Homo sapiens: one gene and its partners. The protein of the gene in region 1 purifies or fractionates together with the protein of each later gene. This does not show direct contact. Each region holds a gene or a part of one and is shown in the gene's direction. Other genes may lie near its edges. The genes, in order: IGF2BP3, STAU1, EIF2S3, G3BP1, HNRNPM, PAIP1 and RCC1L.

The links.
Region 2: the proteins of IGF2BP3 (region 1) and STAU1 purify together in Homo sapiens (affinity purification with mass spectrometry; 2 studies listed by BioGRID). This does not show direct contact.
Region 3: the proteins of IGF2BP3 (region 1) and EIF2S3 purify together in Homo sapiens (affinity purification with mass spectrometry; 2 studies listed by BioGRID and IntAct, with this or other methods). This does not show direct contact.
Region 4: the proteins of IGF2BP3 (region 1) and G3BP1 purify together in Homo sapiens (affinity purification with mass spectrometry; 2 studies listed by BioGRID). This does not show direct contact.
Region 5: the proteins of IGF2BP3 (region 1) and HNRNPM purify together in Homo sapiens (affinity purification with mass spectrometry; 2 studies listed by BioGRID, with this or other methods). This does not show direct contact.
Region 6: the proteins of IGF2BP3 (region 1) and PAIP1 purify together in Homo sapiens (co-immunoprecipitation; 2 studies listed by BioGRID and IntAct, with this or other methods). This does not show direct contact.
Region 7: the proteins of IGF2BP3 (region 1) and RCC1L purify together in Homo sapiens (co-immunoprecipitation; 2 studies listed by BioGRID and IntAct, with this or other methods). This does not show direct contact.

Annotation. Positions count from the first base shown.
Region 1 is NC_000007.14:23,312,988-23,317,309, reverse strand, and holds part of IGF2BP3 (insulin-like growth factor 2 mRNA-binding protein 3), read left to right. Parts: intron 1-3,656; coding exon 3,657-3,788; coding exon of another isoform or gene 3,789-3,841; intron 3,842-4,322. UniProt on the Homo sapiens protein: RNA-binding factor that may recruit target transcripts to cytoplasmic protein-RNA complexes (mRNPs). This transcript 'caging' into mRNPs allows mRNA transport and transient storage.
Region 2 is NC_000020.11:49,115,107-49,119,428, reverse strand, and holds part of STAU1 (double-stranded RNA-binding protein Staufen homolog 1), read left to right. Parts: intron 1-1,020; coding exon 1,021-1,096; intron 1,097-1,332; coding exon 1,333-1,652; intron 1,653-2,180; coding exon 2,181-2,303; intron 2,304-3,561; coding exon 3,562-3,647; intron 3,648-4,322. UniProt on the Homo sapiens protein: Binds double-stranded RNA (regardless of the sequence) and tubulin.
Region 3 is NC_000023.11:24,075,031-24,079,352, forward strand, and holds the end of EIF2S3 (eukaryotic translation initiation factor 2 subunit 3), read left to right. Parts: intron 1-1,691; coding exon 1,692-1,755; 3' UTR 1,756-3,780; downstream 3,781-4,322. UniProt on the Homo sapiens protein: Member of the eIF2 complex that functions in the early steps of protein synthesis by forming a ternary complex with GTP and initiator tRNA.
Region 4 is NC_000005.10:151,795,824-151,799,739, forward strand, and holds part of G3BP1 (ras GTPase-activating protein-binding protein 1), read left to right. Parts: intron 1-1,403; coding exon 1,404-1,605; intron 1,606-3,388; coding exon 3,389-3,490; intron 3,491-3,916. UniProt on the Homo sapiens protein: Protein involved in various processes, such as stress granule formation and innate immunity. Plays an essential role in stress granule formation.
Region 5 is NC_000019.10:8,472,046-8,476,367, forward strand, and holds part of HNRNPM (heterogeneous nuclear ribonucleoprotein M), read left to right. Parts: intron 1-1,618; coding exon 1,619-1,663; intron 1,664-2,121; coding exon 2,122-2,199; intron 2,200-4,322. UniProt on the Homo sapiens protein: Pre-mRNA binding protein in vivo, binds avidly to poly(G) and poly(U) RNA homopolymers in vitro. Involved in splicing.
Region 6 is NC_000005.10:43,529,158-43,533,479, reverse strand, and holds part of PAIP1 (polyadenylate-binding protein-interacting protein 1), read left to right. Parts: intron 1-3,600; coding exon 3,601-3,694; intron 3,695-4,322. UniProt on the Homo sapiens protein: Acts as a coactivator in the regulation of translation initiation of poly(A)-containing mRNAs. Its stimulatory activity on translation is mediated via its action on PABPC1. Competes with PAIP2 for binding to PABPC1.
Region 7 is NC_000007.14:75,042,378-75,046,699, reverse strand, and holds part of RCC1L (RCC1-like G exchanging factor-like protein), read left to right. Parts: intron 1-3,590; coding exon 3,591-3,668; 3' UTR 3,669-4,322. UniProt on the Homo sapiens protein: Guanine nucleotide exchange factor (GEF) for mitochondrial dynamin-related GTPase OPA1. Activates OPA1, by exchanging bound GDP for free GTP, and drives OPA1 and MFN1-dependent mitochondrial fusion. Plays an essential role in mitochondrial ribosome biogenesis.

The DNA of each region.
Region 1 (4,322 bases):
CCTGTCCCTGAGATTGCCTAGACTTGAATTAAAATGCCCCCTTTTTCCTTACCCTTGGATTATCTCTGTTAGACCCTGCCCATAGACTCTACAAATCTCTCTAATCCCTGGGATCTTAGAGATAGGAATGGCAGGAGCTCTTGTAGCATTTGTTCTGGTATGAACCATTGCACGTTTAGTGGGATTTGAGGTCTTTGGGGCTGCAGTGTGCCTTTCAATGTCTACTGAGAGATGGTAGAGCTGAGACTTGGCAGCCAGGCTGCTAGTTCAAATCCTAGCTCTGCCATTTGCCTTGTATGACATTGGGCAAGTTACTTAACCTTTTTCTGTAAAACCAGGGATAAGAGCACCTACATCCTAAGGTAGTTTAAGGTTTACACAATATATGAAATGTTTAGAAAAGTGCCTAACACATGGGCAGCACAAAATTAGCGTGCTGGGGGTATTCAACAGACTATGGATGAATCAGACTAAGACCATGCCAAATTCATAAATATATTCCTTTTAGTGTATGATTTCTCCCACAAAATTTAGTATGGGTGTCTTGTCTTAGAACATTTAGTGGCTGTGTAAGAAGACAACTATTTAACCTTAAGCTGTAGTTTTTTTTTTCTCTTTTTTTTTTTTTTTTTTTTGAGACAGAGTCTCACTCTGTCGCCCAGGCTGGACTGCAGTGGCGTGATCTCAGCTCACTGCAAACTCCACCTCCTGGGTTCAAGCGATTCTCCTGCCTCCGCCTCCCGAGTAGCTGGGATTACAGGCATGTGCCGCCACGCCCAGCCAATTTATTTTTAGTAGAGATGGGGTTTCACCATGTTGGCCACACACTCAAACTCCTGACCTCAAGTGATCCGCCCACCTTAGCCTCCCAAAGTGCTGGGATTACAGGCATCAGCCACTGTGCTCCTGGCCAAGCCTTAGTTTTTTTAGCCTTAAAGTGTAACAGTAACTAGTAACAGTGCATACAGTTCTCTCCCCACCCCACCTCTCTCCCTTAAATCAAACAAAAAAAATCACTTTCTTTGACTTCTATTTTCTCTGGGCCATTTTTTCACTAAAAACCCAAAGCTGCTTTCACTTATGTGAAGAATGGGAAACGAAGGAGGTGCTTTGAGATGTGGGTGGTTAGGTGAAGAAAGAAAATCATGTGAAGAAATTTATTCCTTCACAGCAGCCTTGTGATCCAGGCAGTTCAAATCTTAACTCAGAATTGTTGAAAACTGCTTCCTATCCCAAACTCTCAGGGTCACTTTTAGTTTGAAATCTTAAAAGATAAATACAAACATGTCTTTCCTTGGTGCTGAGCTTTTAGTCTTATAAGTAGAATTACTGTCCTGCAACTCCTATGATGTTTGTATGATAGGAACTTCAAAGTTCTTTCCCTGTATTCACTAATAAAACTCATGTTTTATAGTTAACTTAAATGTAACACTTAAGCCATAGTAGTTAAATTTTATTTATGTGATTGGTGACAATGCTAAATGAATGTTTTACTTTAGAGATCTAAGGAATGGTAAACCACCTACCCCGTATTTTTCCTTACAAATTCAAGAGCTTCAGTTTTGGAGGATAGTGTATATCCCTAGTGTCTTTTTGACTGTCTTAAGTAATAGTAATATCTACGTCATTGGCCTGAGGCATTAAGGATCATTGGAATATAGGGTATCAAGATGAATTTTGTTTTGTCGGTAGTGCCCTAAAATGAGCTCAGCTTTCTGAATCAGTGAACGCGTGTTGGGTACTATTGTTTTTTGTGGTTTACCCTGGCAGCTTGTCAAACCAACTCTCAGGCTCCTTTCTGCTTTGCTGTATGTAATAGGTTGTTTATATATAATAGGTTGTTTATATAGTTGCATGCAGTAGGTGATAGGATGTATTGACTCTAAATATCAGAAGTGTCTTGGCCAGGCGCGGTGGCCCACGCTTGCTATCCCAGCACTTTGAGAGGCCTAGGTGGGTAGATCACTTGAGTCCAGGAGTTCCAGACCAGCCTGGCCTACATGGCAAAACTCCATCTCTACTAAAAATACAAAAATTAGCCAGGCATGGTGGTGGATGCCTGTAATCCCAGCTACTTAGGAGGCTGAGGCAGGAGAGTCACTTGAACCCAGGAGACAGAGGTTGCAGTGTGCTGAGATCGCACCACAGAGAAAGAGACTCTGTCTCTAAAAAAAATAAAATAAAAAAATAAAAAAAAATAAAAGGCAGGGCACAGTGAGTGGCTCATGCCCATAATCCCAACACTTTGGGAAGCCAAGGTGGGTGGATCACCTGAGGTCAGGAGTTCAAGACCAGCCTGGCCAACATGGTGAATCCCCGTCTCAACTAAAATAACAACAAAAAATTAGCTGGGTGTGGTGGCGGGCACCTGTAATCCCAGCTAGTTTGGGAGGCTGAGGCAGGAGAATGGCTTGAACCCGGGGGTCGGAGGTTGCAGTAAGCCGAAACCATGCCATTGCACTTCAGCCTGCATGACAGGGTGAGACTCTGTCTCAAAAAAGAAAAAAGTGTCTTACCTTGATGTTGTAGCCTCTTTAAAATATTCAAAGGAAAAACCACCTTTCTAAGAGTATGAAACACATTTAAATTGAAAACATTTTTCTCAGCAGGTTTCTAACTGGCCCATGTAGATGTGAGCTTGACTTTTAGTGAGCTTGGCATAGCTGACTCTGCAGTTCTGTCTCTTTTGCTCAAAAAAAATGTGACCAGGTGTGGTGGCTTGCACTGGTAATACCAACACTTTGGGAGGCCAAGGCAGGACTCTTGAGCCCAGGAGTTTGTGATGAGCGTGGCAACATAGCAAGACCCCCATCTCTATAAAAATTAGTGGCGCAGTGGCTCACACCTGTAATTCTAGCACTTTTGGAAGGCTGAGGTGGGCACATCACTTGAAGTCAGGAGTTCGAGACCAGCCTGACCAACATGGTGAAACCCCATGCCTACTAAAAATGCAAAAATAATTAGCCAGGTGTGGTGGCTAGTGCCTGTAGTCCCAGCTACTCAGGAGGCTGAGGCAGGAGAATCACTTGAACCTGGGAGGCGGGGGTTGCAGTGACCCAAGATCGTGCCACTGCACTCCAGCCTGGGCAACAAAGTAAGACTCCGTCTCAAAAAAAAAAAAAAAATAAGTCAGGTGTGGTGTTGCATGCCTGTAGTCTGCTACTCAGGAGGCTGAGGTAGGAGGATCGCTTGAGCCCAGGAGGTTGAAGCTGCAGTGAGCTATGATTGTACCATTGCACTCCAGCCTGGACAACAGGAGGACCCTGACTCCAACAAAAAGGAAAGAAAAATGCAACTGATGTCTCATGGCCAGCATGAGAAGTTTTACCTATCACAATTTTAGTACGAATGGCCATTTGCCCACAAAAATTCGTTTTTATTAGGTTATTAATTGCCTTTAACTGTTTTCATCAGAAGAATATGGTTTATCCTTCTTTCACCAAGCATTCAGTTGCCTCTACTGTGATGGGCAGTAGTTATTGTCAACCTTTTAGGACTTCTAACTGCTCTCTTCTATGTTATTTTCAACAATCTATGAAATGTAGATGTATCACTGCAAAGGGCTATCCCACTTGGATTTGGGCCATCTTTCAAGTTAACTGACCTTTTCCATTTCATACATGAATGACACTAATAGGATGTGTTTTCATCTGCAGGCTCAGGGAAGAATTTATGGAAAAATTAAAGAAGAAAACTTTGTTAGTCCTAAAGAAGAGGTGAAACTTGAAGCTCATATCAGAGTGCCATCCTTTGCTGCTGGCAGAGTTATTGGAAAAGGAGGCAAAACGGCAAGTACTTCAGCAAAACCTGTGCAGTGGTATGAAAGGGAAAGCGTTGAAAGGTACTTAGGAGTTCCAAGTCCCCGAATTTTGGCTAATTTATAAAAAGCAGGACCATCTTGACCAAGGTTTGGAGAAGATTGCCTTTTGTTTCCTGTCTGAGTGTTGGTGCCAGCTATTAGTGAAAGTAATGCATCTCTTTCAGATCACTTTGTGTGAGAGGATTGTCCTATATTTATAAAGGGCATTTAACGTTCTCCTGATAAAACTTTAGCTTTTTATGGAACAGACACTTAACAGGAATTTTAAAAATTTCATCTACAGCTTGTTACATCTGTAATGGAAAAAAAGCAAACTGTTTCTAGTCTCTAATACATATAACTTGTAAGTGGGTTTCAAAGCTATTTATAATTTTGAAGTGATTGAGTACATACACTTTGGAATCAGACTCAGGATTTGAATCTGGTTTTGCCATTCACTTGTATAACTGGACAAATCAGTTTCTTTGGATGAGCCTTAATCATCTTGAAGTGGGGATAATTC
Region 2 (4,322 bases), on another chromosome or scaffold:
TGGGAGGCTGAGGCCTTGAATCCAGGAGTTCAAGACCAGTCTGAGCAACATGATGAAACCCTGTCTCTACAAAAAATTAAAATATCAGCCAGGTATGGTGGCTTGTACCTGTAGCCCGAGCTACAAGGCTGAGATGGGAGGATTGAGCCTTGGAAGGTCAAGGCTGCAGTGAGCTGTGATCATGCCACTGCACTCAGCCTGGGCGACAGACCCTGTCTCAACAACAACAAAAAAGGAACGTAAAAAGAAAAATTCGTGTCTGCCAGAAGTGGTAAGCAGGACCTCAGCAAAAGCCATGGCTGACCTTCTTCTTTCCCATCACTGAATGGTCCTGGTGAGATAAACTTGAAATCAGGCCTGATTCATTCATGTCTGCCAGTCATATTGACAGAAACAGCATCAGTCATGGCCAGTTAATAACTGACTGGGACCCCAGATACCACCAGTATAGATCTTAGACTTGGCTTTAGGGTTTTTCATTTCAGAATCTTGTAGGACATTCAGAGTGTCCTTTGTTACTTCTTAGAAAGGTGATGTTGTGTTAGACAAAATTCTTAGGTAATAACATTTTCCCCGTAAGGGTGTTAATTTTGGAATGTCACCTTATTTTTTAATTGGATATCAGCTCCAGGAAATATTCTTGATTTATTTGTTTAGCTTCAGTCTGAAAGCTTCTTTCCCCACCTTGGTGGGCTCTACCGTCTAGCATCTCTGCTCTTTCTGGTTAAATGCTTCCCGTCTTCCTGTGGGTGCAGAGTGCAGCTCAGCATTCACAGGTTAGTGCACTTTGTTAGATGCTCTTTGTGGGCAGGGGTGTGGGCAGGAGGGTGCATTAGGAGAAGGAGGCAGGCTCTGCCCAGGTGTCTGTCAGGGTGCCAGTGGTCAGGTGGGGCAGGGTTTTTCTGCCGATTGCCACAGTTATTGCTGACTGGACTTTGTGTAGATTTAGACAGCAGGAGCTAATTTTTCAGTGATCTGATTTATGCTCATGGCCTTTTTTTTTTCTTCTTCTTTTTTAAGACACCCATAAAGAAACCAGGGGATGGAAGAAAAGTAACCTTTTTTGAACCTGGCTCTGGGGATGAAAATGGGACTAGTAAGTGTGATCTTAATATCGTCTTCCTCTGAACGTGATTCTGGGATTTGCATGGGTCCTGAATAACAGCAGGAGCCCAGCCAGTGAGGTCCCGCATGCAAAGTGTCTTTATCATTCCCTGATTCCCTGCGCTGCCATGCGTGCCAAGGGGAGGGCCAGCGTGGGGTTTGATGGTGTCATTGCGTTTTTCCAGGCTGTGGATGTGGATTCGTGTTTACCGTGTATGTCCCTCCCAGGTAATAAAGAGGATGAGTTCAGGATGCCTTATCTAAGTCATCAGCAGCTGCCTGCTGGAATTCTTCCCATGGTGCCCGAGGTCGCCCAGGCTGTAGGAGTTAGTCAAGGACATCACACCAAAGATTTTACCAGGGCAGCTCCGAATCCTGCCAAGGCCACGGTAACTGCCATGATAGCCCGAGAGTTGTTGTATGGGGGCACCTCGCCCACAGCCGAGACCATTTTAAAGAATAACATCTCTTCAGGCCACGTACCCCATGGACCTCTCACGAGACCCTCTGAGCAACTGGACTATCTTTCCAGAGTCCAGGGATTCCAGGTAACTGTCTGGCCTGAGCTGTGATGGCTGTGCCTCAGGACAGTCATCTTTTGGCTTCTCTCAGAAAATGAACTTTGAACTTTGTACTTTTTTCTTAAATCAAGTTCTGTCCAGGGATGGGCTGGGGAGCAGTGATGGAAGGGTAGGAGGTATAGAAGTATTGTAAGCATATGTGGTAAGAGAAATATCTTTATCCTTTGGTAGTAAGATTTCAACATGCAAGCCAACCCTAAAAGCTTCTAACCACTAGCAGTGGTTGTAAATTTGGATTTCAAAGAACAGACTCATCGTGCTGACACTTTCTGTCTGGTAGGAAAGGATATGGCTTCTCCCAGTCTTGGGCTTCTGAGCAGACACCTAGGTTCCTGGAAGGTTCTGGGCTGACAGGGCAGGTGTTAGTATGGCCACAGTGGGGCTGAGTTGGAAAAAAGAGCTGGTGATCTTGCTTGTGGGGCCTGGAGCTGCAGCCCTCCAGCCCACTCATACTTGCTGTTCCCTACCTAGCCTCAGCTCTCTTTTCCCCCTTAGGTTGAATACAAAGACTTCCCCAAAAACAACAAGAACGAATTTGTATCTCTTATCAATTGCTCCTCTCAGCCACCTCTGATCAGCCATGGTATCGGCAAGGATGTGGAGTCCTGCCATGATATGGTACGTCACACCTTGGGTGAGGGATTGGGGTGTTGTGTGTTTATGTGGAGCCTGCCTTGGTTCAGCTTGTTACTAGCCTGAGGAAGATGGGAGAAAGATTGTCCCATAGACCTTGAGAGCAATGAATCGTTTGATAGTGTTCATATTTTTGAAGACTTTTTGTCATAGCTGATTGGATCGATTTCTCACTCTTGATCAGAACTCATCAGCTTTAGCCCACCTTTCCCTTCCTTTTCCCTGCTGGCCTGGAGGGGCAACTGGGATCCTGCAGCTCACCCAGAGACTGCACTCACTTCATCTCTCACCAGAACAAGGAATTGCAGGTCCACGTTCTGGCAGCTGTAAAAACCACTTGCTTTGGTCTTCTGTTCAGATGAAATTATTGTTATAAGAAAACTGAGAAAAGGAATTGATCAGATCAACAAATCTAAGTAAACTGTGATGTATTCACTTGATGGGATGTCATGCATGCATGAAATTAATGTCTCTGGGTGGGGTGTGGTGGCTCACACTAATCCCAGCACTGCGGGAGGCTGAGGCAGGCGGATCACCTGAGCTCAGGAGTTCAAGACCAGCCTGGCCAACGTGGTGAAACCCCATCTCTACTAAAAATACAAAAAAAAATTAGCCAGGTGTGGTGGTGGGTGCCTGTAATCCCAGCTACTTGGGAGGCCAAGGCAGGAGAATCGCTTGAACCCGGGAGGTGGAGGTTGCAGTGAGCCAAGATTGCACTACTGCACTCCAGCCTGGGCAGCTGGGTGAGACTGCGTTTCAAAACAAAACAGTGTCTCCGAAGATAATGTAATAAGAAGAAAAATACATGATAGGCCGGGTGTGGAGGCTCACACCTGTAATTCCAGCACTTTGGGAGGCCAAGGTGGAAGGATCGCTTGAGCCTAGGAGTTTGAGACCAGCCTGGGCAACTTAGTGAGACCCTGTCTCTATAGAAAGAAAAATACATGATAGATTTTTGTTAGAAAGCAGGATATAACATTTATACAGTCTGGTTACCACATGGTTAAAAATACTAGAAGGAAAAATATAACATTTTCAGAGGTTATGATTCAGTGAGGTAACTGAATATTTTTTAATTTGTATTTTAAATTAAAAATTCAAAGTTTTATTTAGTAGTACCAGAGTTGAAGAAGTTGCCACCTGTTTGCTGGGCAGCAGGAACTCTCTTGCCTGCCTGACCAGTGTATTATGCTGTGGTCCCAAGCGGTGGCTGTGGCTTTACCCTTCTTTCCATCCCCACTAGGCTGCGCTGAACATCTTAAAGTTGCTGTCTGAGTTGGACCAACAAAGTACAGAGATGCCAAGAACAGGAAACGGACCAATGTCTGTGTGAGTGCACTGATGAAGGGGAAGGCGCTGATGATGGGGAGGCTGCCCCTCGTTTGTGTTGAGTTTACACTATCTGCTGACTCAGCGGGGAAATATTTGCCTGAGTTACTTTCTGGCCCTTTTGCCTGAAAGTTTTCCAGATTCTCTGGGCAGAAAGCTCTACTTTTAAAAGACATTTTGAGGCTGGGAACAGCGGCTCACACCTGTAATCCCAGCACTTTGGGTGGCCAAGGCAGGTGGATCATGAGGTGTCAGGTGTTTAAGACCAGCCTGGCCAAGATGGTGAAACCCTGTCTCTACTAAAAATACAAAAATTAGCCAGGTGTGGTGGCAGGCACCTGTAATCCCAGCTACTTGGGAGGCCGAGGCAGAGAACTGCTTAAAACCTGGGAGGCGGAGGTTGCAGTGAGCCGACATAGCGCCACTGCACTCCAGCCTGGGCGACAGAGCAAGACTCCGTCCCAAAAAAAAACAAAAAAACCTTTTTGAGTTGGTCATACCTTCACATGGTCAGAACTCTGCATTATTTTACAAGGTACAATCTTCCCCTCGGACAGCCCCCATCCCATCCCTCCTATTCTCCCCACCGCCTCCCCCATAGATCACATTTTTACTAGTTTCTCCTGTATCTTTCCTGTATGTTTCTTTATACAAATATAGACATATATTTCTTCC
Region 3 (4,322 bases), on another chromosome or scaffold:
ATTTTTGTATTTTCAGTAGAGACGGGGTTTCACCACGTTGGCCAGCCTGGTCTTTAACCCCCGACCTCAGGTGATCCGCCCTCCTTGGCCTCCCAAAGTGCTGGGATTACAGGCATGAGCCACCACGCCTGACCTCTTTCTTCTTTTTTTTGGAACATTTCCTTATTTTCTGGCACAAAATCTTCCAGACTCATCTTGTACCTTCTCTGTTCCAGTTTTAGAACTGGCCATTTCTCTTATAAATGAAAAGCTGAGTGTTCAGGTGTGCTCATGGCTCTTAGGGTGCTGTTGCTTCTAGGTCTTTTGAGAGCATAGAGCCAGGAAGCATACACACATTTTTGGCTCCTGACTTTTTGCTCTTTCCCAGGTTATTGAGTTTGCCCCTTGCTTTCCATTCCTCGTCACCTCATCACAGTCCATACCACCATCACTTTACACTTCACAGTTAGTGCGAAAGACTCCTAGTTTGCCTCTTAACTTGGTCAAAATTAGTCTTCTTAAAACATTTTCATCATGCTGTGTTTAATAATTTCTAGAGTCTTCTCACTACTTTTTGATATTTGGGACTTTTCTAGAAACCTGCTTCAACCCATTTAAGCTTTCCTTCTGCATTGTCTTATATAAACCCTCTAAATTAGACTGTTTTGTGCCCTAACTGTCCCCATAATTATTCACATCACCCCTACCCACTATCTACTTCCTTAATTATTTATTTTATATTTTTTAGAGGCAGGGTCTCTCTGTTGACCAGGCTGGAGTTTAGTGGCATGATCATAGCTCACTGCAGCCTCAGTGTCTAAGTAGCTAGGACTATTGGCTCACACCACCGTGATCAGCTAATTTTTTTGTTTTTTGTAGACACTTGGTCTCACTGTGTTGCCCAGCATGATCTCAAACTCCTGGCCTCAAGCCATCCTCCCACCTCAGCCTCTCAAAGTGTTGGGATTACAGACATGAGCCACCCCGCCCAGCCCTGTTTCCTTTATTAAGGCTTCCATGCTACTGTGCCCACGATGGTCTCATCACTTGTCCAGGAGATTTATCTGAATTATTGCCCTGTAATTTAGAAAGTTAAATTTTTGTTGTCTCTTAAGTAAATAATTATTTGTGGTGACTTATGCCCTTTTGATTTTACTGTCTTTTGTGATTATATTTTTTTGCTATTACAGACACACGACTTCCAGTGTATTTTGAAATAGATTTAAGCAATAAACTTTCAGTCCAGGCACGGTGGCTCATGCCTGTAAGCCCAGCACTTTGTGAGGCCGAGGTGGGCGGATCACTTGAGGCCAGGAGTTCGCAACCAGCCTGGCCGACATAGTGAAACCCCATCTCTACTAAAAATACCAAAAAATCAGCCGGGCATGGTGGCGCATGCCTGTAGTCCCAGCTACTCGGGAGGCTGAGGCATGAGAATTGTTTGAACCCAGGAGCCAGAGGTTGCAGTGAGCCGAGATCGTACCACCGCACTCCAGACTGGGTGACAGAGTGAGACTGTCTCAGAAAAAACACACAAAAGCAAGAATAAAAAAGAATCTAAGAATATAGTGTGGGCTTTCTTTATGGAGGAGCAGGCTTTGGGAACAAATTTGAATTCAGAAGATAAGCAGGTAAAATTTATCACAAGATTGTGTGGTAATGAGAGTGAAGTGGATGTAAGATTTATGATTTCTTTTATTTTCATTTTGCAGTTTAATTGGTTGGGGTCAGATAAGAAGAGGAGTGACAATCAAGCCAACAGTAGATGATGACTGAAGAATACCAGTTAAATAATACATTCGGATGGATTTGGAAGTTGGAATTCCTCTTAACAACCAAGGGGTTTATTTTCAAAGCAATATTGGGGAATTGATTTCACAGTTCGTTACCTTAGTAGGTAACGGTAAGGTTATTCTCTTTTTTTTTTTTTTTTTTTTTGGTTATGAAAACTTAGGGACTAAAATTAATATAAAAATTGGCATAATGTTGGATTGAATCTACATTTTGGCAGAAGTTAAACATTCCCACATAATGTCAAAATTATACATCATGCAGTTCTGTTTTTTTGTTTGTTTTATTTTGTTTTGTTTTTGAGTCTGGCTCTGTCACCCAGGCTGGAGTGCAGTGGCGTGATCTGCAACCTCTGCCCCCCGGGTTCAAGCGATTCTCCTGCCTCAGCCTCCCGAGTAGCTGAGATTACAGGTGCGCGCCACCACACTTGGCTAATTTTTGTATTATTAGTAGAGACGGGGTTTCAGCATGTTGGCTAGGCCGGTCTCTCCTGACCTCAGGGTGATCAGCCCACCTCGGCCTCACAAAGTGCTGGGATTACAGGCGTGAGCCACCTTGCCCAGCCCACATCATACAGTTTGAAATGAAACTTTGCCACAACCAGCCTTTGCTGTAGCACACACATATATCACTGAACCTGTTTGAAATAAAGTTTTTTTTCTTTTTCATGATTCGTCTTTGAGTACCTCCAGGCTGAAAGACTGTTGTACCAGTAAAAACTTAAAGGCACAAATTCTCCTTGAAGACCTTCTCCCTTTTATGTGGCCCCATATTTTATGTTGCTTTATCTTTGAAATTTTGCATGAAAAGGAAATGAATGGATTCGAATGAAATTGTCCTTTAGAGCATGATTACTTGTTCCCATGGACAAATATTTTTCTCCCCTTGCTCTTCCTGGCCTGAAACACGGGAAACCAGAGTCAAAAGTTATCTCCCTCTCCCTGTGATGCCTTGAGATTTTTTTCTGCGTTGTTTAATGCCTGAAATCCAAGTCTTCCTCCATGGGAAAATACTGTTATACCAAATAATTCTAGATGAGTAACAAAGATCTTTTTAGGCCTTCATTTTATGTTTTTTCTTAACTGTTATATTATGATTGTGACATAGATTATACTACTACTAATTTTTGGATGTTTCAAAAGGTCAAGAAGTAAAAGATGTTAGAAAGCAATGAGTGAGTCCTTTTGATTTTTAACTTATTCCCCATGTCCCTATACTTCGTGTGCTTTTCCTTTTTTTTTTTGAGACGGAGGCTCACTCCGTCACCTAGGCTAGAGTACAGTGGCACGATCTTGGCTCGCTGCAACCTCTGCCTCCCTGATTCAAGTGATTCTCGTGCTTCAGCCTCCCATGTAGCTGATATTACAGGCACTTGCCACCATACCCGGCTAATTTTTGTATTTTTAGTAGAGATGGGGTTTCACCATGTTGCCCAGGCTGGTCTTGAACTCCTAACCTCAGGTGATCCGCCCGCCTCTGCCTTCCAAAGTGCTGGGATTACAGGCGTGAGCCACTCTGCCCGGCTTATTTTTCTTTATGTTTTTGCTTCGTAAGAGGTTCTGTTGAGCAGTGATTTGCAACTCTTGCTGACGTTGCTGGGGAAGCTTTAAAAAAAAAAAAGATGCCCCACAGAGATTCTGATTTTAATTGTTCTGATTTAATTGGCTTGGAGTAGAATTCAGGCATTGATATCTTTAAAAACTCCCCAGTGTTGAGAAACAAATTTAGAGAGTTGAGAAGTAGGTATATTAAATTACAGAATCTTACTGAGTTTTGGTAGACTGATAATACAATTTGCTTTGCTTTTCTTAAATTTGCATTGAGATGGGATTTGAAGCATATTGTGCTCTTGTGAATGTTGAAGTTGCATTGTAGAAGTTTAGAAGCTCTGGCTATGGGTTGCCTAAATTGATGTTTTGAGGAAGCATATTAATGTTATAAACTTCGCTGACTTTGAAGGTTGTGTTGTAGCATGAGGAACACAAATAAAACAATTCTAAATCAAACTAATTTTATATCTAACATGTCCCCATGTGTTTTGTAGGTACCTTCTACCAGAAATTTTGGAATAAGACTTAAAATATAGACATTGTAATTAATCTCATGTAAGATTTGAAACCAGAATTCTATTATAATTAATTTCAGACATCCACATGAATTAGCAAATTTGTAAAGCACTGTACTGAGTGTAATGGGCATATACAGATAGGAAGTAAATGGACCTTATTTTAATAGAACTTGAAGCCAGAGCAGTGATTCTTAGCAAGAGATGTACCTAGTTGAGAATGTGCCTGTAATGTTTCTCATGAAAGTACATTACAGCCAGGTGTGGTGGCTCACGCCTGTAATCCCAGCACTTTGGGAGGCTGAGGTGGGCGGATCATGAGGTCAGGAGTTCGAGACCAGCCTGGCCAACATGGCGAAACCCTGTCTCTACTAAAAATACAAAAGTTAGCCGGGTGTGGTGGCAGGTGCCTGTAATCCCAGCTACTCTGGAGGCTGAGGCAGGGGAATCGCTTGAACCCAGGAGGTGGAGGTTGCAGTGAGCTGAG
Region 4 (3,916 bases), on another chromosome or scaffold:
TTTTTCTTGGTGTTAAGTGAAAACTTGCATATTGTTTATCAAGAGTTGAATGTATTGAGGTATTAAATGCTTTGAGGGAATATGAAGTGGACAGAGACCTATTTAATTAGAGATCGGGCATAAATTGATATAAATACCAATATGTGAGTTAAGTAGCAATAAAGAATTTCATTACGTTAGTAAGTGCATCATTATACCTTTGGGTTTTTTCCCCCTTGTGATTAGAACAGAAATGTGTTTGATAGCAATAGAAATCCATATTTACTTGTTACCATGTGATACTGAATGTTAATATTCAGTGCCTGAAGGGTGTTTTCAAGTGTTTCTTAAGGTGTGATGAACTAATCAGGTTACTCACTTGGGTTGCTGGTTGAAAATGAAGATTCATGGTCCCACTGCAAACCTACCGAATTAGACTTTCAGGAGGCAAAACATCTGCAGTTTTGTTTGTTTTTGTTCTATTGAGACAGAGTCTTGCTCTGTTACCCAGGCTGGAGTGCAGTGGCGCGATCTTGGCTGACTGCAACCTCCGCTTCCTGGATTCAAGCAATCCCCCTGCCTCAGCCTCCTGAGTAGCTGGGACTACAGGCGCACGCCACCATGCCCGGCTAAGTTTTGTGTTTTTGTAGAGATGGGGTTTCGCCATATTGGCCAGGCTGGTCTGGAACTCCTAATCTCAGGTGATCTGCCCACCTTGGCCTCGCAAAGTGCTGGGATTACAGGTGTGTGCCCAGCCCCCTCTGCAGTTTTAACAGCATTTCTGGTTGATTTATGTGGAATTTTAAGAATTGTATTCTGAATCATAACTATTTTCTCCCCCAAATTCCTTATGTGCTTGAAAGAGTTTTTGTGTGTTTGTGTTAAAAGCCACATATCATAAAATTTGCCATCTTAACCTTTTTTTCATCTTAACCATTTTTAAGTGTAAAGTACAGTAGTGTTAACTGTATAGATGTGGTTCTATGACAGATATCTAGGACTTTTCACCTTACAACTTTTATTGAAGATAACTTTATATACCTTATAAACAGACTATACCCATTGAATGGCAACTTTCTTTCCCGCCCCCCCCGCCCCAGCCTATTTTGAGAGTTTTTCTGATGTTGTATGCTAAATGAATTGTAATAGTTGTGGGATTCCAGCCATAAAGTGGTTTGGTTCATTTTGATGTCCTGATTCATTTGCTTATCAGAATTTGCCAAACAAATGGATTCCAGTTAAGTTATTGAGTGGCATTTTAAAAATTACTTTTTAAAAACTCAGATAGATATACAATTCTTAGATTTTTGTTTTGGATAGAAGGAGCTAACTCTGTGTTCTGGTTTCTGATTAATAAATGATGGAGGAATTTTTTGTGAAATAAATGGTGGCAGAATGATATTTCTCAAATTTTCCTGTCAAAGTAATGACATGGAAGAACATTTAGAGGAGCCTGTTGCTGAACCAGAGCCTGATCCTGAACCAGAACCAGAACAAGAACCTGTATCTGAAATCCAAGAGGAAAAGCCTGAGCCAGTATTAGAAGAAACTGCCCCTGAGGATGCTCAGAAGAGTTCTTCTCCAGCACCTGCAGACATAGCTCAGACAGTACAGGAAGACTTGAGGGTATGAAACGTGTCTTCATTTTTATTCTATTCCTAGTTATTTTTTTTAAAAAAAGTTTCTGTTCTTTTGTATTGCTGTTTGGTTGACTTGTAGATACATTTTCATATTGGTGGTTCATTTCAGGGAAATTTCTTAGATATTGAGCCATATGTTTGATAAGAGAGAGGTAAGATGTGTATTAGTTTATTTCATCAAAAGAAACCACTCCCTTCCCCGAGGTAACTTGAATGCCTGTTAGACCAGAAATTTTAGGTGCCACTGTAGCACCCTATCAGTGATTCCTTTTCTATTTAATATTTAATCTTTTACACTATAAATTATTACATACTTGTTACTACAAGTGCATAACATCTTTTCAAGAAAAATAACATGGCAGAATATACTTTTTCTATGAAATTTTATTGAAGATAACTTTATAGTGGAAGTAGAAATGAACTGCTGAAGTAAAACTTCTTTTCTAGTTGGCATACCTGATTTCAGAAGTTTTCAGTTTGTCCTTCTGAGTCTCGTCAGGGTGATTGTTAACTGAACTATCGTTGAAACCTTTGCATTTGGTGCTCTGGAAAGGAATATAATTTTTAGTGCTGTGTTTATAGGCTCAGGGTTATGTCATTTGTTTGTTCAATAATTCAAATTCCTGCTGTGTGTTAGGCATTGTTCAAAGTGTAGGTTTTATATTGGCAAAACAGATAGGGGTTCTTGTTCTCTGGCAGCTAATAGGTGAGTAGGAAAGAGCAATGTTGAAATGACTTTAGCTTGCAAGTGGAAAAAATTAGCTGGGCATGGTGGTGCCTATGTGTGGTCCCACCTGCTTGGGAGGCTGAGGTAGGAGGATGGCTTAGCCTGGGAAGTCAAGGCTGCAGTGAGCTATGATTATGCCACTGCATTCCAGCCTGGGTAATAGAGTAAGACCTTGTCACAAGAACAAAACCATAAGAAGCAAGTGGAAAAGTAGGTTGGCTGGACCAGCTGACCACTTAGTTGGTTATTATAGTAACCCTAGTGAGAGAGAATGATGGCTTGAATTAGAGTTGTGGCAGTGGAAATGGAAAAGAAATAATTAGGTAGAATAACAGGTTCTGGCGATTTTTAAATGTGCGAGAAAGGTGTTTATGATGATTCTACAATTGATGTAATTGAGTCGATGTTTGTACAATGGATTGGATGGAATCACAGTAGGAAGAGCTGAGCTGATTTTGGAGGAGAGGGAATTTTGTTTGATTCACAGATTTGAATGAAAGTAGCTTTTGTTGGGCCAGGCGTTGTGGCTTACGCATTTAATCCCAGCACTTTGGGAGGCTGAGGCCAGGAGGATTGCTTGAGTTTAGGAGTTCAAGACCAGCCTGGTCAATATAGTGAGACTTCATCTCTACTAAAAAGAAAAAATAGCTGGACATGGTGGCACATGCCTGTAGTTTCAGCTGCTTGGGAAACAGGTGGGAGGATCACTTGAGCACAGGAGATGTAGGCTGCAATGAGCTGTGTGCATGCCACTGCATTCCAGCCTGGGCAACAGAGCAAGATTCTGTCTCAAAAAAAAAAGTGAGTAGTTTCTTGAACCTAAGCCTCTCGGATTTGCTTGGTACTTGATCATCAGTCCCAAGGAATTTCAGTACTAAATTTTGAATAGCTGAAAGAGAAGAATCTTAATATATATATATAAACTCCATCCTGCCTATGAGAATGTGTTACCGTTTGTTCTGTACAGGAAATCAAGAGTTAGTAGCTTTTATATTGTTTTGATACCTGGTATAATTATGTAATGTTGGTATTGCTCCCTTAGACATTTTCTTGGGCATCTGTGACCAGTAAGAATCTTCCACCCAGTGGAGCTGTTCCAGTTACTGGGATACCACCTCATGTTGTTAAAGTACCAGCTTCACAGGTAAGGTCCTAATAAAACTTGTACATTAGGCAAATTTACTTCTATTGTGGTAATTTGATTCAACAGAGGTTTAGAGAATGTGAAAACTGGTCAGGTGCAGTGTGGCTCATGCCTGTAATCCCAGCACTTTAGGAGGCTGAAGCCAGCTGATCACTGGAGCCTAGGAGTTTGAAACCAGTCTGGGCAACATAGTGAGACCCTGTCTCTACAAAAAATAAGAAATTAGCTGGGCCTTGTGGCATGCATCTGTAGTCCTAGCTACTTAGGAAGCTGAGGTGGGAGGATTGCTTGAGTCCCGGAGGTTGAGGCTGCAGTGAGTCATGATTGTGCCACTGCACTGCATCATGGGCGACATACTGAGACTCTGGCTCAAAAAAAAAAAACCAACCCAAATCAATGTAGAAACAGAACTGACATATAGGACGG
Region 5 (4,322 bases), on another chromosome or scaffold:
CTGTAATCCCAGTTACTCAAGAGGCTGAGGCAGGAGAATTGCTTGAACCCGGGAGGCGGAGGTTGCAGTGAGCTGAGATCACATGACTGCACTTCAGCCTGGCAACAGAGCGAGAGTCCGTCTCCAGAAAAAAAAAAAAAAAAAAAACCTGCATGAAAGCTTTGATGTGTAGAATAAACTCAGGCTTTGCTGTTTAGCATTTTCATTGCTGTGTAATGATGTATTTTGATTCTATTAAGGAATATGTCATTTTTATGACCTTAGACTTTGGTCTTTGTTGGAATCCTTTGAAATTGGAATATGGAAGCCCCTCTATCCCACCATTGTCAGTGTTGCATATCCCTAGACTCTCTTCCAGAGTCACCCTGGGGCTGACTTAAATTCTGGGCCACAACTTCAAATGGCTGTTAACGTTTCCCCCGACCCAAAACACACACACCCCATGTCTGACATCTAAACAGAAAGACTGGGGGTTGGGGAGGAAGTCTTGGTGTTTTTAGGAACTGGTTTTTATTTTGAAGATTTTACCTTTAACAGGGATTGATTTATTGAGACGGAATTTTGCTCTTGTTGCCCAGGCTGGAGTGCAGTGGCTCAATCTCAGCTTACCGCACTCAATCTCTGCCTCCTGGGTTCAAGTGATTCTCCTGCCTCAGCCTCCCAAGTAGCTGGGATTACAGGCATGTGCCACCACACCCAGCTAATTTTTTGTATTTAGTAGAGACAGGGTTTCACCATGTTGGTCAGGCCGGGCTGGAACTCCTGACCTCAGGTGATCCACCCGCCTCGGCTTCCTGAAGTGCTGGGATTACAGGCGTGAGTCACCACGCCCACCCTTAACAGGGATTCTTAAAAAAAATCTACTTCTGTTCCCTAAAATTTTCTAAAAAGTTTATGTTCCATAGAATGTGTCTTATAATTCTATTTCATGTTTAATACTGCCTAACTTGAGGCCTGGTGTGGTGGCTTATGCCTGTAATCCCAGCAATTTGGAGGCCGAGGGTTTGAGACTAGTCTAGGCGACATAGACTCCATCTCTACAAAATATAAAAAAAATCAGCCAGGTGTGGTGGCGTAGTCCCAGCTACTTGGGAGGCTGAGGCAAGAGGATCACTTGAGCCTGGGATGTTGAGGCTGTAGGGAGCTGTGACCATGCCACTGCATTCCAGCCCCAGTGACAGAAGGAGACCCTGTCTCAAAAACAAAAAAAACACAAAAACCCTGCCCGACTGGGTCATTAAAGTATGTAGATCCCTCAGAAAAAGATTAGCCAGGCGTGGTAGCAGGCGCCTGTAATCTCAGCTAGTCGGGAGGCTGAGGCAGGAGAATTGCTTGAACCCGGGAGGTGGAGGTTGCAGTGAGCCAAGATTGTGCCATTGCATTCCAGCCTGGGTGACAGAGCAATACTGTGTTTAAAAAAAAAAAAAATAGCTATATGATATTTGACAGTTGAAATGGTAAGGGCTTTTTTTCTTGCTGATTAAAATATATAAAATATACTTGTCATCAGGGATTTTCTTTTGAGTTCTTTTGCTGGTTTGGAATTATGCTTTTTAAGTTCAAACGTTATTTACTGCTTTGACATAATTTTAGTTTGCATTGACTTTTTCTTTTTAAGGAATGGGAATGGAAGGCATAGGATTTGGAATAAATAAAATGGGAGGTAAGAAATTTAAAATGAAGTACAAGCATAATCACTTTTAGGCATAGTTTTCTCTCTTTCCTCTTTTCTTTCTTGTTTAAACCCTGCATGAAATTCTCTTTGGTTTCAGTTTGAGTCTAGAAATGACTTCCTCCTGCCTGTCCATCCTTCCAGCGGGTGTCTTGGCTTTTGGTTCTGGCTGTCTCACTAACTAGCTCTGTGACCTTGGGCAGACCACTCCATCTCTATGCCTCTTTTTGCTTGTCTATTCATTGAGGGGGTTGGATCAGACCAGCTTTTTGAAGATGGGTGATTTTTAAACAAGGGTGCTAGCATTTTTTTTGTTTTTCAAAAGCCTTTAAACTTGGTAAGTTCTTGGCAGAAGATACCCCAGTTGAAACATGTGATAGAATTTTTCTTTCCCTGCTTAGTCTAAGCAGTCTTGTTGGATGATGCTGAAATGTGAACCTCTCTTGCAGGAATGGAGGGGCCCTTTGGTGGTGGTATGGAAAACATGGGTCGATTTGGATCTGGGATGAACATGGGCAGGATAAATGGTAAGCATCGTGTTTTCTTCCTGCTTTCACTCACCCTTTGCCGGCTGTTGCCTCTCAGGTGACTTTTAGGCTGCAGACCCACTGAATAAGTGGTTTCTCACTTCTGCTTTTCAACCGAATCAAATGTCTTTTGAATTGCCTTAAATATTTCAAAAACTAGACATAATAGTAGACTTACTTCACTTGGTCGCTAGTCTTTTGAGATGTCCTGTGTTCCCAAGCTCTGCAGTAATTTTCGAGTACAGTGTTAAAAAGCATGTACACGTTCGTGGTTATGGTCTCCGAGTATGAGGGATTCTTTAAAGTTTGTAATCAAGTTTGTCTCTGGGAGTGCTGCAAAGGGTTGTTCTTGGTCATCTGCCCCAGCTACAAGTTGTCTATAGAGGCGTTAATAAAAATCACAGGCTCTTTTAATTTAGCATTTACATAATGCAAATTCTGGTTTAGTATAATTCAAATCCTCCACCAACTTTTTTTTTTTTTTTTTTGAGACAGGGTCTCACTCTGTCACCTAGGCTGGAGTGCAATGGTGCGATCTTGGCTCACTGCAACCTCCGCCTCCCAGGTTCAAGTGATTCTCCTGCCCCAGCCTCCTGAGTAGCTGGTATTACAGGTGTGTGCCACCATGCCTGGATAATTTTTATATGTTTAGTAGAGTCGGAGTTTCACCATGTTGGCCAGGCTGGCCTCGAACTCCTGACTTCATGTGATCCGCCCGCCTCAGCCTCCCAAAGTGCTGGGATTACAGGCGTGAGCCACCGTGCTCGGCACCTGCCCCCAACTTTTTAGCAGAAATATAATAATATAATAACAATGTAGTATTTCATTTAGTCCTTGTGAGAACCACATGATATGTACATACTGCTATCCTTGTTTCATCTGAAACTGAGGCACAGAGAGTGACATGCCTAGGTCAAGTGACTGGTAAACAGTGGTGCCTGCATGTGAACCCAGGCTGTCTGGCTCCAGAGCCTGGCACTTCATCATGTGGGAATCCTGCCTTTTAGAAGTGCCTCCAGCACAGCACTTGGCCCAGGGCACCAGCAGGGCTGTAGAGTGTGCATGAGAAATTGTAAATTTTCCTTTTTGAAATCCTTTATGTGTTGGTGACTCTTTGACCTTCCCCTTCACTGCAGGAAAGCTGCTGCTTTTTTACACAGAAACTTTCTTGGACTGAGAAGTCATTAGGGATTTAGGTATAAACCTTCCTTTGCGGGTCTGCCATAACAAAGGATGTGAAAATGGTACAAGGACAGACATCATTGTCAGGCTTGAAAGGCGGCTGTCCCTGATGATCAGGCCCTTCTTCCGGTGCACAGGGAGCAGTGGGGCATGATGTGTGTTGCCCTCTTCATGGGTGCCTTGTTCTAGAAGCTGGTAAAAGGATGTAGGAAAGTTGTCACCATTAGTAATAAAGCAACAGAGGTCTGCGTTTCCAGTGTACATTCAAGCTTGCCTGTAACTTGTGTGTGCATGGGATTTTAATTTTTAAAAAAAGTTTCAGAAATCTGGCTTGGTAAAATGTTACTCAGAGCAGATTAGTCTGGGTGTGCTGGCTCACGCCTGTAATCCCAACACTTTGGGAGGCTGGGGTAAGAGGATTGCTTGAGCTCAGGAGTTCAAGATCAGCCTAGGCAACACTGCGAAACCCCATCTCTCTCTTTTTTTTTTTTTTTTTTTTTTTTAAGAACAGATTAGTCATTAGGGAATTTGAGTTGTTGCTGTGAGGAGTAGAGTGATGCAGTTTAGAAGTAGATGGAAATCAGGATGGGTTGGCCTGGGAGCTGTGCTGAGCCGTGTGACACAGTCGATGGTGAACTGGCAGGTGTAATCTCGCAGTCAGGATTCAGAGCCTGGGGTACGCGGTGGCAAAGGATTCCAAGTGCTGATTCTCTGGAGAACCACAAATGGAGTGTGTTTTCCTAGACTGTTCTTAGATGTTCTGAGATACGGCACTCGGAGTGCTCCCCACACCCTCTACAGCTGAGAACAGGGACTCCTTCCCACTTGACCAGCATTCTTTGGTTTGGGTGGGATGAGCTCTAGAGCCCTTGGGCACTGCAAGGAAACTGTACATCACACTGGAGGAAGAATTGAAGCAGACGTTTGGGTTTAATGAAATG
Region 6 (4,322 bases), on another chromosome or scaffold:
ACTATTTTAATTTTATATTTCCTCTAACTTTTTTATAATCTTAAATTTTCAGGTGATTAGAATGGAGGGGAAAGACGATTCTAGTTCACTGCATAGTCAGCAACATATATTAATATGGGTTAATACTTTACACGAAGAATTACACATTTCATTCATACTTGGTGTGTGACAGTTAATTAAAATCCAAATCTCTGCACATTTCCTCTTCCAGAAGAGGACCATTTATAGAAAGATTGCCTTAATTGTATTAGATGGAACTGTAGAGTGAGGAAGAGAAATTTTTCCCTTTGGTACAAACTGCAACCAGCTTATGGTTGGAATTTTTCCATTTGTTTCCTCTGGATTCCAAGCATTGACTGTCCTGTGTCTCTAGCACAGAGAAGTTTTTTTAGGGCAAGGAAGTAGAATTAAGTTACACGCTATGGGCATCTTAAACTTCACTAAATGTTACTAAATTGTTTTCTAGCATGATTATGCCACTTAATCTTCCCATCAGCAGCACATGAGGGTTCCTGCTCCTCATCTTTGGCAATACTTTTTATTAAACTTAATTTTTGTCCATCAGATTGTATGAAATTCTATCTTGCTGATATTTTATTTCCCTGACAAGTGATATTGAAGTTTTCTTGTTCTTGTTGACCTTTTTGATTTCTTTCTTTGAGAATTGCCTGCTAATACTCTTTGTTCATATTTCTGTTGGATCATTTGTCTGTCTTACTGATCTGTAATTCCTTTTGTAGTCTAGAACAAAGTGATTCTTAGCTGAGGGTTTTGGTTACCTTCTTTCTCTCAGTATTTGCCTGTCTTTGCATTTTGTTTATAATGTCATGTAGAACCTTTGAGTTTTAATGTGAACAAAATTTATCAGTCTTGTTTGTAATTTCTGTGGTTTAAGAAAGTTTCCTTACCATTTCTGTTTTCTTCTAAAAATCATTGTTCTTTTTTATTTTTAGGTCTTTAATCTACCAGTGCAATTTTTATATAGGATGATATCATAGGAATTATCTTTTCCATTGCCTGTTGTCTCAACAATTGGTATTAAGCCATCCTTCCTTTCCTAGTTATAATAAGCCCCCTTTGTTGTATACTATGTAACTCTTCTATCAAATTGTGTCTTATTCCTGTGTTTGTGTGAATCTTTTTTTCTGTTAATCTCTTTCTATGCCAATACTACACTTAAATTATTTTTACCTTACTGTGAATCTTGCTATGTCTGGTAAGACAAATCTTTCCTCTTATTCTTAAAAATTACCTTGATTTATTTTGATTATTTGTTTTTTATTTTTTCTAACCTGTTTAATTGTTTCTAGTACTGTTCGATTTACAGAAATTCAGTTTGGTTGTTCAGTTTCTTTTCAAGGAAAAGAAGTAATGTAGACAGCCAGTAGATCTCAGTTTCTTTTTCTTAAACGTTTTTTAATCTGCTATACTTCATGAAAGTAAAAGAAATCTTACAGTTTTACAGAAAAATCAAGCTAAATTTTGTTTCTGCATTTTGTTCAAATAATCTTGACCTTTTCTCAGAGTTTCAAGTTATTTTTTCTCATCATTCTAAACATGCTTACTTCTGTCTTATATTTTTGTTTTATCTCTTAATTATAACCCTTCTGTTATTTCTGATCATCACACATAAAATTTTTGCCTTAACCGTCTTAAACTTTTATTTGGAAATGATTTCAAACTTACAGAAAAGTTACAAAAGTAAAATTGTACAAGGAATACCTTTTACCCAGGTGTACTTTTTGTTAACAGTTACTTGCTTTATCATTTGTGCTCTTTCCACACACTTTTCTTTTTTTCTCTTTTTTTTTTTTTTTTTTTTTGAGACAGAGTCTCACTCTGTTACCCAGGCTGGGGTGCGGTGATGCAACCTCGGCTTACTGCAACCTCCACCTCCTGAGTTCAAGCAATTCTCCTGCCTCAGCCTCCCAAGTAGCTGGGATTACAGGCCTGTGCCACCACGCCTGGCTAATTTTGTATTTTTTTTTTTTTTTTATTGAGACAGGGTTTCACCATGTTGGTCAGGCTGGTCTTGACTTCCTGACCTTGTCCACACACTTTTTTTTTTTTTCTTAAACCATTTGAAGTTTCATATTAATATGACCCTGATTAAATGCTTCAGTGCTTTGTCTTTTTTCTTTTTTCTTTTTTCATTTTTTTTTTAATGAAAAACACTGTGGCTTGGATTATAGGAACCTCTGTCCAAAATGGTTTATATTTCCTTCTGCCAGGAGCCACAGAGTAGGTATCACTGACTTGGACAAATTTTTTGTTTTCTTGTCATAGGGGTTCTTTATGTGGGTAGTAGGAATTTGAGGTGCAGGCCCATTGTTAAAAATTCTCTGGGGCACCAATTTCTACAAAGTGCTCTGTCCCTATTCCAAACCCAGGCAGACATGACCAAGCTTCCTGCTATCTCGCAGGGAAGATAAAATACCACTGAGATATTTCTTGGTCTTTTTTCCTGATTCACCTTTTGTTTAAGATACCAGACCTTTGAGGGTCCCAGGTTTGTGCAGGTGAGGTTGGGCATGGAGCATGGATTTCATTTTCCTGTTTCACATGGGGCCCAAGACCTTGCTTTCTGGCTTTCTGTGGGTTTTAAAATCCAAGCCCCTTAGTTACCGAGACCAACATCATCTGTCAGCCTCCCAGCTGCAGCAGCTGCAGTTTATATATGGCTTTCAGTTCCTTCTTCATTTGTGACCTGATGACTTGGATTTTCTTTTTTGTGAACTTATCCATACATTTAAAAGAATGCCTGTCTTTTTGTAGCAGGAAGGTTTTACTGTTAAAACGGTCTCTAAATTGTCAAAATTGGGTATCAAAATGTCCCCAGCCCTTGAAGCTGGAGTTACGGTTTTATACAGACTGACACAGTCTTGGAAGAACATGGCTTTTACCCAGTCTAATATAATTGCAAAATTTCCGTTGGCTTCTGTTCATAAGAAACTATAAGGTAACTAGTCTTAATATATACTGATTCATTTTTTTATTCAGAGGTTAGGACTTCATAAAGAAATACTTAACTTAAAAGGTACCCAATAACTCTTCCTAAGACAATTGGCAGATAGGTGTAATATCACCTGTATTACCTTGGAGGACCCAATGAAAGGAAAGTTGGCAGAGCTGAAACGTTTACCAGGTAGCTGCCTTCCCCATCTCTCTGGGAAGAAAGGGAAGGAAAATCCCCCATTGTTAAAACTTTTGGTAGGTTAACTTCATCTGAGGAACAGAGACCAATTGTTGTTACCTGCTTTCTTTACTTCCTTGTGGAGGAGTACAGAGGGAGCTGGAAACCAGTAGTATTTGATTAATATCTTTCCAATGGAAGGACTGTTCTTCCCCAACAGTTATATAACCATTATTTTGTCTGATGGAAAGCAGCAGTAGAGGATATAAACACATTGGCTATGAATGTACATCACCTACAGTGGCTTTGATTTCCAACTTATATCTATAGTACTATATGTAATTACTTTAAGATTTCTGAGCATGCAGGGGGGCAAAAGTCATAATATTAAAAAACATTTAGGGGTGATTGGTCATTTCATGTGATATTTTTTCAGTATTTAGTTTTTCTCCTATGTTGTCTTACAGATTACCAAGAGAAATACCAAGAATTACTTGAAAGAGAGGACTTTTTTCCAGATTATGAAGAAAATGGAACAGATTTATCCGGGGCTGGTGATCCGTAAGTTTTCTTCAGTTACTAACTTCGTGAAATTTCTGTGTCTAATTTATAGGTGGAGATTAGACAAAGTAGCTCATGAAGGAATGGTGTTTGGGGCCAGGCGCAGTGGCTCGTGCCTGTAATCCCAACACTTTGGGAGGCTGAGGAGGGCAGATCACTTGAGGCCAAGAGTTCAAGACCAGCCTGGCCAACATGGCGAAACCCTGTCTCTACTAAAAGTACAAAAATTAGCCAGGATCACAGAATCACAGCTACTCGGGAGGCTGAGGCACAAGAATTGCTTGAACTTGGAAGGCAGAGGTTGCAGTGAGCCGAGATCGTGCCACTGCACTCCAGCTTGGGAGACATAACTAGATTCTGTCTCAAAAAAAAAAAAGGCATTTTGATTTGATGGTGCTATGTGGTAGTGTTTATGTACTAAAAATTTTCAGAAAATTGTATTAACTCACAGACTAGTTCTGAAAAATGTATAGTTGAGGAAAATAACCATTAAAATATAGTATACTTAAGCATAATTATTTTTTTAAAATAGATTCTATTGTATTTAGACTTTAAGAAGCTCTAAAACTTACTGTAAGATCTTGGGCAACTTCTGTTCTGCTTCTCCATCTATAAAATAAGAATAGTA
Region 7 (4,322 bases), about 52 Mb from region 1:
TTGTGAGTGTAAATTGGCTTAGAAGAAAAACGCCATTTAACCTTGCCTAGGACAAAAATAAAACATGGCTGAGGGCAGTCTCCTCTTGGACTCAGTTCAGAGACCGTGTGAGATTGTCCGCCAGGGGGAGCTGGAACCTTGGGGAGCCTCCCGCTGGTCCCTAGGGCTGGCTCCCAGGAGCCGGGCCCTTGCTGCCCAGGCCACCCGCAGCAGAGACCATCGTGGCTTCCTTTGCTTTGGGCTTGAATGGCCAGAGCCCTCGGGGAGCAAGGACCTGGGGGCTTAAGTGCAGCCGTGAGGAAGCGCACTGTCCCGGGAAAGGTAAATAAAGTGCTCCCTAATGGCTGGGGAGGTTGCTAAGAGGCGGTCGGGGCCCAGTCCCTGCAGAGGCAGCCTGTTTTCTTCTCCGGCCAGCCTCTCAGGCTTTCTGCATCGACGTGCCTTTGCGATTCACTGGGCCCCGTTCTTGTTTGTTTAGTGATTCCTGTAATAGGTTCTGCTAAAGACATTCATTTGTTTAGGGACAGGGCTGGGGGATGACAGCATGACTTGGTTTCTAGCATCCATCTGCTGTGGCCAGGAGTCCCTAATGGTCTTGTCTCCTGGCGTAGGTGCAAAGCTCCGGGGTCGGCGCCTGCCGCCTCTCGGCTTTTAGGGCCAGGCCATCTGGATTAGGCGGTTTCCCTCTTAAGCTCGGTAAACTCCACAGACTGTGACAGATCCCCTTTCCAGCTGTCACACCACCTGGCTGCATGCTGCCACCAGGGGAGGGTGGTCGAATTCGGATCTGGTCAGTAGATCAAGTGCCAGCATCCTGGCAGGGGTCTTCCGGCCAAGCCAGGCAGGGTCACTTTCTTTGCAGTTGGCACTTAAGAAAGGAAGAGAAGGCCAGGTGCAGCGGCTCACGCCTGTAATCCCAGCGCTTTGGGAGGCCAAGGCAGGTGGCTCACGAGGTCAGAAGATCAAGACCATCCTAGCCAACATGGTGAAACCCCATCTCTACGAAAAATACAAAAATTAGCTGGGCATGGTACTGCATGCCTGTAATCCCAGCTACTTGGGAGGCTGAGGCAGGAGAATCGCTTGAACCAGGGAGTCGGAGGTTGCAGTGAACTGAGATTGCGCCACTGCACTCTAGCCTGGTGACAGAGCGAGACTCCGTCTCAAAAAAAAAAAAAAGAGAGATGCATATCTGCTTCTTTGCATAAAGAACCTCTGGAAGGCCAGGCCTGGGGATCACACCTGGAATCCCAGCACTTCGGGAGGCTGAAGCAGGAGAATCACTTGAGCCCAGGAGTTCGAGACCAGCCTGGGCAACATGGCAAGACCCTGTCTCTACAAAAAATACAAAAATAAGCTGAGCATAGTGGTGCATGCCAGTAGTCCTAGCTACTTGGGAGGGTGAGGTGGGAGGATAGCTTGAGCCCAGGAGTTCGACATTGTAGTGCGAGCTATGATTGTGTCTCTATAATCCAGCCTCGGCAACATAGTGAGACCTCTGTCTCTACAAACAAACAAACAAAATTAGCCAGGCATGGTGGCACGTGCCTGTAGTCCCAGCTACTTGGGAGGCTAAGGCGGGAAAATCACTTGAGCCCAGGAGGTTAAGCCTGCAGTGATTGCACCACTAGACTCCAGCCTGGGCAACAAAGTGAGACTCTGCCTCTTTTTTGTTTCTGAGCCAGAGTCTTGCTCTGTTGCTCAGGCTGGAGTGCAATGGCGTGATCTCGGCTCACTGCAACCTCTGTCTCCTGAGTTCAAGCAATTCTCCTACTTTAGCCTCCTGAGTAGCTGGGATTACAGGCGCCTGCCACCATGCCCAGCTAATTTTTGCATTTTTAGTAGAGACGGGGTTTCACCATGTTGGCCAGGCTGGTCTCAAACTCCTGCCCACCGCGGCCTCCCAAAGTGCTGGGATTACAGGCGTGAGCCACTGCGCCTGGCCTAGACCCTGTCTCTTAAAACAAAAACAAAACAAACCTCTGGAAAGTTAATAAGAAATCAGTTAAAAGTAGTTTTCAGTTCAGAGGCAGATGGGGACTGGGGCAGCTGGTGATAGGTGTGGTAATGAAAGACTTTTTTTTTTTTTTTTTTTTTTTTCGAGACAGAGTCTTGCTCTGTCGCCCAGGCTGGAGTGCAGTGGTGCGATCTCAGCTCACTGCAACCTCCACCTCCCAGGTTCAAGCGATTCTCCTGCCTCAGCCTCCCGAGTAGCTGGGGTTATAGGCGTGCGCCACCACACCCAGATAATTTTTGTATTTTTAGTAGAGACAGGGTTTCACCATGTTGGCCAGGCTGGTCTTGAACTCCTGACCTCAAGTGGAGTCCACCTCAGCCTCCCAAAGTGCTGGGATTACAGGTGTGAGCCACTGCGCCCGGCATAAAAATCATTTAATAGCTTTTTCTTCTTTTTCACTGAATGTCCTTTTATCTTGCAGCTATGTGAATGCACTGCCTAGTCATAATAAACAAGAAAGAGAAAGCAGAGTGCCCCTTTCCTGGATAGCTGGATTGGCTATGGCCCTGGGCACACCTGGAGTTGTTGAGGGTGTCCGTTTCCATGGCGAGGCTATAGAACAGTGGGCGCCCTTCCAACAGGCTAGAGCCTCCATGTCTCAGTGAGGCCATCTTCTTGCTCCCTTGAAGCTTGGGCTGTCCTCTGATGCCATGTTGTCAGCCCAGACAGGCAGTGTGATCAGGGCTCCTGGCAAGGGTCTTTGAGACACAGCCACTGCCCCTGCTTGGTGGTCGTGACTTGGGACGCAGCCTGCCTGTGACTGGAGCTGGGGGTGACGGGTAAGATGAGTGGAGATGTTGGGCCAGTGGGGCCTGATTCCCAGACTGGACCTGCAAGGCAAGAGACAGGGTTTCTGGAGCTTGTTTTTGAGACAGAGTCTCGCTCTGTCACCCAGGCTGGAGTGTAGTGGTGCAATCTTGGCTCACTGCAGCCTCTACCTCCTGGGTTCAAGCAATTCTCCCACCTCAGCCTCCCGAGTAGCTGGGATTACAGGCGCCTGCCACCACGCCTGGCTGGTCTCAAACTTCTGACCTCACGTGATCCGCCTGCCTTGGCCTCCCAAAGTGCTGAGATTATGGGCGTGAGCTACAGCGCCCAGCCCCTGGAGCTTCTTAGTGAGCCATAGCAGTGGCTCCCAGGAGAGATCTCTGAACACCTGGCCTGGGGGCATGGAGCCTAGTGGGGTTAGGGTCAGAGGGGAGCAGCCCCTGTAGGGCGTGCAGGTTCCAGGGATGCACACAGGCCCATGTTCCTGCCCGACATGCCCTCTCAGGCTGATGTGAATGGTGATGGCTGCCATTGACTGGAGGGAGTTGGGATGGCCTTGTCCTCATGACCACACGCAGTTGTCCTGATGGACCTGCTGGGGAGGCCTAAGTGCCCCCATTCCCAGAGGGTAGGGAGCCGAGGCTCAGAGAAGCTGTCTCCTACTGAGACAAGCTGTCTCCTGCTGAGACAAGCTGTCTCCTACTGAGTCTCCTACTGAGAGGCAGGGCCGGGTCGGCCAACACCAGCGCCTGTCTCCTCCGGGTGCGCCACCCCCACCCATGGTATGCTGGATCTTATTTTTCAGGTGACGATGCCTGGGGAGCCTGTGGACGTGGCATGTGGCGTGGACCACATGGTGACCCTGGCCAAGTCATTCATCTAAACCTCCCTCACCTGCTTGGGCGGCCCCGTCCCGGGAACCACTGGCACTCCTTGGCAGAGGCCAGCGCGTGGCCAGCCCCCCGGGGTTCTTGGATGGTGGTGGCGGAGGACCCTGCGTGCAGTGTGACGCTCTGTCCTGAATCCCTTAGCGGGTACCTACCAGGAGGATCAGGGCAAGGTCCCTCTCCAGCTGCAGGTGAGGCCTGCGGAACTCAGCTTGGATGGCAGCCTTTGGTGGGCCGCTGTGGCCCGCACGTCTCTGTTCTCTCCAAGTAACATGCGACGGTGTCTGGTGTCACGTCTCGCCTGAGAAGCCCGTCTTAGGAAAGCTTAGCTTGAACACAGTGCTCGGGAGGTTTCTGCTCTGTCTGTCATGGCAGTCTCTTGGTTTGTGTCTGGCCAAGGCCATGCGTGTGCCTCGGACCGAGCCCCAGCTTAGGCGAGGGAGTCAGGCTGGCTTCGGCCCTCGGTTTTCATTCAGGCCACCCTGCTCATGGCCCTTCCTGGCCGCCTGCCACACCGCAAGCTCGCTGGGGGGACACTAGAAGCACCGTGGCCTGGGATTCCATCTGGAGCTGTCCGCAGGCACCAGCCCCAGCCTCCCACCACGCTCACTGCCTGGCTTGGAAAAGTTAAGAAGCCCCTCAGGAAGAGA